2 separate regions of the Homo sapiens genome follow, and region 2 is reported to be linked to region 1. Evidence: microRNA targets listed by miRTarBase, many of them from high-throughput screens and not tested one by one. Region 1 holds a microRNA gene; the other region holds the end of a gene's coding sequence.
What was found. The annotated mature microRNA hsa-miR-8078 reads GGUCUAGGCCCGGUGAGAGACUC and lies in region 1 at 2,063-2,085, shown strand. An mRNA with a match to its seed (bases 2 to 7 or 8) in the 3' UTR can be bound and repressed. Matches are read on the target gene's strand: a 7mer-m8 pairs with bases 2 to 8, a 7mer-A1 pairs with bases 2 to 7 and ends in A, and an 8mer does both.

Region 2: miRTarBase lists PLEKHA8 as a target of hsa-miR-8078. Seed matches in the 3' UTR shown: 7mer-A1 at 900-906.

Annotation. Positions count from the first base shown.
Region 1 is chr18:111,172-114,350 of GRCh38, reverse strand. MIR8078 (microRNA 8078) reads left to right here and starts at 2,012; the gene lies at 2,012-2,095. It also overlaps the pseudogene ROCK1P1. RefSeq lists a silencer at 2,331-2,580.
Region 2 is chr7:30,078,298-30,081,476 of GRCh38, forward strand. PLEKHA8 (pleckstrin homology domain containing A8) reads left to right here. Exons shown (of 14, transcript NM_001197026.2): 14 at 293-3,179. The coding sequence ends at 490. Among named protein-coding and RNA genes, the nearest start is that of PLEKHA8, 51 kb to the left of the region's middle. RefSeq lists an enhancer at 2,523-3,049.

The DNA of each region.
Region 1 (3,179 bases):
ATCCTCCCACCTCAGCCTTCCAAAGTGCTGGGATTACAGGTGTGAGCCACCACAACTGGCCCAAGTGAGCTCTCTTCATAAATTTAAAAAAAAAAAAAATTCTTTTTTCAGAGACAGGGTCTCGCTATGTTGCCCAGGCTGGTCTCAAATTGAACTCAGGCCAACCGCCCACCTTGGTCTCCCAAAGTGCTGGGATTAGAGGCATAACCACTGTGCCCAGCCACAAGTGAGTTTTCTAAAGAAATACGATTTTTTAAAATCTTGTCTTGAGTGATTATATGAGTGTTTACAACTGTAAAAAGTTACTGAAGAGAACACTTAAGATCTATGAACTTTATTGTGGGAAATTATACCTTAATAAAGAGAGGAAAGAAATCTCTCATCAATCTAAAAAGTATTTAACTTAGTTGAAAGATAGTATCTTTCATACTAGTGTTTATGTATTATTTCACTTAAGCTGATAATTTAAATTTTGACAACTAAAGCTGTTTATTAAAAAAATAGAAAATAAAGTAAGAGTATTCTCTAGAACTTGCTTAATTCTTTTTACATTCTAACTATAACCAGCTCCACAAATACTTAATTTCAAAGGGATGATAATACTTTATTTTATATATATATTTCTTTTAAAAAGCAGTTACCAGACTTGACTTTGAATATATATTTTGTTGAATATGTTCTGCCTTTTCTCCTACTAGTCGGTAAGGTCCTTAATGATGGAATTTACTCATCTTTATACATACTACATAATCTATGATAATATAAGCAGCAATACTTAAGAAAAGATTTTAGAATGAATATAAGAAAAAATACCATATTATAGGCCTCTTTGACCTATCATTACAAAAGAACAGATATATTTATATTTCCCCTTAATAATGACCAAAGAATCCTACACAGTTGTTCTTTTATATCCACAGGGAATTGATTCCAGGAACTCCAAAAATATCAAAGTCCAAGTATGCTCAAGGCTCTTATATAAAATGGTGTGGTATTTGCATATAACCTAGGCACATCCTCCTGTATGCTTTAAAATCATGTCTGTATTACTCATAAGACATAATACAGTATAAATGCGATGTAAACAGTTGTTATACTGTATTTTTTAAAGAAATTTCTATTAATAGTTATAAAATATATATATATAATATTTTATATATATATATATATATTTTTTTTTTTTTTGAGACAGAGTTTCGCTCTTGTGGCCCAGGCCGGAGTGCAGTGGCGCAATCTCGGCTCACTGCAACCTCTGCCTCCCAGGTTCAAGTGATTCTCCTGCCTCAGCCTTCTGAGTAGCTGGGACTACAGGCGCCTGCCACCACGCCCAGCTAATTTTTGGATTTTTAGTAGAGACGGGGTTTCACCATGTTGGCCAGGCTGGTCTTGAATTCCTGACCTCAGGTGATCCACCTGCTTCGACCTCCCAAAGTGCTGGGGTTACAGGTGTGAGTCACCGCACCCGGCCCTCTTTCAAATATTTTCTATCCACAGTTGTGGATATGGAACCCACTGATACACAGCTGACTATACTTTTTGAAATGCTCTCTGAACTCAAACTACTAAACACTTGAACTAAAAAAGTTGTCTTCCAAATACATGAAATAAGTATATACATTTTTCCTTCTCACATTTTGCTGAAGATTTAATATAATGTCAACATTTATGCTTAAGAAAAACAGAAAAGTAGGTAACAGTGCTGAAGTAACACAAAATATAAAATAAATTTTAAGTCTAAAAATAATTATCAAAAGTTAGCTCTCAACCCCTTTAAAATTCAATCAAAGGCAACTTACTCTGTGTCTAACCCTTTCCCAGAAACGGAGGCCCCGGGGGAGCTGGAGGCCTCGGAAGAGGCCGCCTCGCTGGAAGCACCCCTCAGCGAGGAAGAATACCGGGCTCTGCTGGAGGAGCTTTAGGACGCGGGGTTGGGACGGGGTCGGGTGGTTCGGGGCAGGGCGGTGGCCTCTCTTTCGCGGGGAACACCTGGCTGGCTACGGAGGGGCGTGTCTCCGCCCCGCCCCCTCCACCGGGCTGACCGGCCTGGGATTCCTGCCTTCTAGGTCTAGGCCCGGTGAGAGACTCCACACAGCGGAGAACTGCCATTCTTTCCTGGGCATCCCGGGGATCCCAGAGCCGGCCCAGGTACCAGCAGGTGGGCCGCCTACTGCGCACGCGCGGGTTTGCGGGCAGCCGCCTGGGCTGTGGGAGCAGCCGGGACAGAGCTCTCCCGCCTCTCCACCGCCCCACCCCGCCGCCTGACCGCCCCCTCCCCACCCCCACCCCCCGCCCCCGGAAAACGCGTCGTCCCCTGGGCCCCTCCCCACCCCCACCCCCCACCCCCGGAGAACGCGTCGTCCCCTGCGCTGGGTGGAGACCCCCGTCCCGCGAAACGCCGGGCCCGCGCAGCGTCCAGGCCTGACACCCTCCGGCGGCTCGCCTCCTCTGCGCCTGCGCGCCACCGTCGCCCGCCCGCCCGGGCCCCTGCGGCCTCCCGGCTGCCAGCACGGAGCGCCTGGCGGTCGAAGGCACACCTCTGGCTGTCTTTGCCGGCCTCCTGGCTAGACCTGCGCGCAGTGCGCACCCCGGCTGACGTGCAAGGGAGCTCGCTGGCCTCTCTGTGCCCTTGTTTGTCCGTGAAATTCTGGCTGAGTCTCTCCCCCCACCTTCCGACGCTGTCTAGGCAAAGCCTGGAGTAGAGTTGCATCTCCTGGATGATCAGTTCAGAGATATGTCACAATGCCCCCTCCCTGTGGATCCTAGAGAAGATTTGCACCATTTGGGTGATCAGTGCAGAGATATGTCACAATGTCCCCTGTAGAAAAAGCCTGGAAATGATTTACATCACCTCGGTGATCAGTGCAGATGTGTGTCAGATCTCCCTAGTAGGCTGAACCTAGACAAGGGTTACATCACTTAGGTGATCAGTGTAGAGGTATGTGAAAATTCCCGTGTAGACAGAGCCTAGACAATTGTTACATCACCTAGTGATCAGTGCAGGGATAAGTCATAAAGCCTCCTGTAGGCAGAGTGTAGACAAGTGTTCCCTCCCTGGGCTGATCAGTGCAGAGATATCTCACAAAGCCGCTTTAAGCAGAACCTTGACAAGGGTTACATCACCTGTTTGATCAGTGGAAATATATATCACAAAGCCCCCTGTAAGCAAAGCCCAGACAATT
Region 2 (3,179 bases), not on the chromosome of region 1:
GGAGCTTTTCTCAGACTCTCTCTCTCAGCATTCCCTGATGTGATAGCATTATTTATCCTTAAGGTGGCCCAAGTACATGCTTGTTTCTTCTAGCCTTAAAGTTATTTGAATTGGCCCTTGAAACATAATTTTAGAGAAGCCACAAATTAGAAGGGTAGTCATATTTCTTTACTCTTGCTCTTCTCAGCTGTTTGTATGTGTGAAAGTATGTGTGTGTGCATGTGCACATGCATAAAAATAAGAGTGTGAGAGACAGACTTGATGCAGATTCTCATGGGTTATTCTTTTGCAGTTAGCTTTAAGGGCAGCTCCATCCTATGAAGATTTTGTGGCCGCGTTAACCGTAAAGGAAGGTGACCACCAGAAAGAAGCTTTCAGTATTGGGATGCAGAGGGACCTCAGCCTTTACCTCCCTGCCATGGAGAAGCAGCTGGCCATACTGGACACTTTATATGAGGTCCACGGGCTGGAATCTGATGAGGTGGTATGATGGCTGCTGGGCAGCACCTCCTAACTTCAGGGAATAAGTGCTAAAGTGTTTTGTTGCCCTACTTAATTTCCAGCAACAGCCTCAACCCTCTCCAACCCCTTCACCTGGGGGGATGGACAGGAGGTGGCAAAACCCAGTGCTTTTATAATTTTTAAAATGCATATGTGTTTTGTTTAAAGATCAAGGTGCTATATATTTCAGTTCAGCAGGCCTACTGGAAACCAAATGATAAGCTGCTGTAGACTTGAACAGCAAGTTATAAGAGCAGATTTAACAAACAAATTTGCTGTTATTGTGTATTGTATTGTTTTTATATTTTAGTCTAATGGGCCACCCAAACCCAAGCTGAAAATCAGCAAATTCCATATTAAGTACCATAATTCATAGCCAGTGTTTCAGCCAACTTAGACTAGACATTTGGAGGTAGTATAAGCTGCTTTGTTGAAGCTGTGTAGAGTTTGCTGTTCCTAGATGTTCTTCAGTGGACCCTCTTCACTGCAACTCTGTCAGTGATAAGGGCCTGTGTAGTAAAGATGTTCAGGGCATTCACATGACCATGCAATTGTGGGAGGCGAAGAAGACGTGGACAGGAGTCCCATCCTTGCTGACAGGCATGAAACCGTTGCTCTGAGAAGATTAATGGTGTGCCCTAGCCCCAAGTTGGAGGGGAGAATATGAGAGAGGTGGGACAGGTCATTTGAGATGACACCTCCCAACTGCCTACCATTTACCAGCATGTTCCCCATGCATTATCTCAATTGGACATCACAAGTAATGATACCCAGAGGGATTATTACTCCACTTCAAAAGCAAGGTTTAGAAGTTGAGGGATCTGTTCACAGTCACATAGTTTTTAAGCAGAGGAGCCAGATAATTTCCAAGTGTGACCTGGACTGCCTCTGCATCAAAGTCATATGGAGTGCTTGTTCAAACAGCAGATTCCCAGGCCTTATTTTGGCCTAAAGAACCAGAGTCTAGGTGGTGGGACATAGGAATCTGCATTTCAGTAAACTTTACACGTGATTCTTCTGCACACAGTATTGAAGAGCAACTAGATTAAATTCTAGTTTACAAAATTACCAGTTTTCTTCAAGAACTAAATGATATGTCCTTTTTTTTTTTTTCAAAGAGGATAAGGCTGCTATTTAAATAAAATAGCTAAATGGAGAGTGAGAAGTGGAGCAGGTTCATTCAGCAGCATTCTTAATTGAGCCAGCATTGACACCCAGCCAGCAGGCCTTTGCATTGCATTCGGGGACCATGACTCTGAATCTGCTTACCAATCAATCTCGGTTTAATCACCAAAAGTGCAGAGCAGGCAAAATGCAGCTGTTTATCAATCTCAAAAGCTTTGGGACAGTGTCATAGTTGAAAGATGAGACTTAAGAAAACAGTTTCTTAAACTTCTTAAAACTTAAGAAACATTGTTTCATAAAACAATATTGAGTGGGCATTCTTCTGCACAGTGTGATGCTCCAACCCTGGCCCTAGTCTCAGTAGACCATGCTGCCTCGAGTGTGCATCGGAGAGAAGCCATGGGTACCTTCCCCATTAGAGGCTACTTCCTTCTAGTAACAGGAAGGGAAGTTCCAGCATGAGGTAGTTATCCAGGGTAGAAGGTCCTTTGAGGGGCTTGGTTGAATTGAGAGCATCATCTCTAGATGATGCTGTTCCTGCTGCAGATCTCTAGGATGGAGAGAATTCTCTCTTTAGTCAGAGAAGTTTATGTAGGGAGGGGTATTGGTTTTGCCTTTGTGTGTCTTTAAACAAATGAACATTTATTTAGCTCAGATTAATTAGGTATTTTGCCCACATAAAGACTTCTGGAAAATACTTAAACTTGAAAAATCAACATCACATGTTTTAAAGCTAGGGAGAAAGAAGGGGGGTATTAAAATGATGTTGATTATTTTGTATTTTGCCAAGGTGTGTGTGTGTTATTTCCCTCCCACTCTCATGAGCAGTGAGTATAGATCTCCTTCTCTGATTAGTATGAATATGATGGCAGGACTCGGGGATAGTCCCTGCCCTTGACATAGCCCCCTAAAACGGAAAAAGAAAAAGCCAGTTTTTGCTTGTACTTTGAATGAAGATGTTTTAGGCATTGTACCATTTAGCGGGGATGATACCAGGTGGTTGTTAGAATTGTGCAGTGTGATCATTCTAAACAGCTGCTGGTGCTCCCTGTCACCTCAGGTGAACTCTGTGGTCTCTTGGAGAGGTAGCACTCTGAAAATACCTCAGGTTTGCCACCGCAACTCTGAATACACACAAAAGGAAAGCTGCTCAGCATGGCCATTTTGCATTTGTATAGGTAGTGACTAGATGTACACAACTTAATTTGCTGGGAATGAGGGGCTTAATATTATCTGAGATCATTGAGAACCCAGATCAGACAGAATAGCTTGAATAAGTTACATTTTCCAATTACCCTTTTTCCACATCTGTAGAAAGAGGGTAATATTTTTTAATAGGTATTTTCCCCACTGGAGCATATTACGTTTGCCTAAGATGTATAAAAGTTTGTTTAAGATGTGTAAAAGTTTGCTTAAGGAACTGAGGATCCTTAAATAAAAATATTAGAAATTAGAAATTGAACCTAATACTAAACAGTAAATTCAGCTTAACCTGAACCTTGGCATAGTCAGAGCTTCCTCCTACATCTAAAGTATTTGCTCTCTGTTTTAGT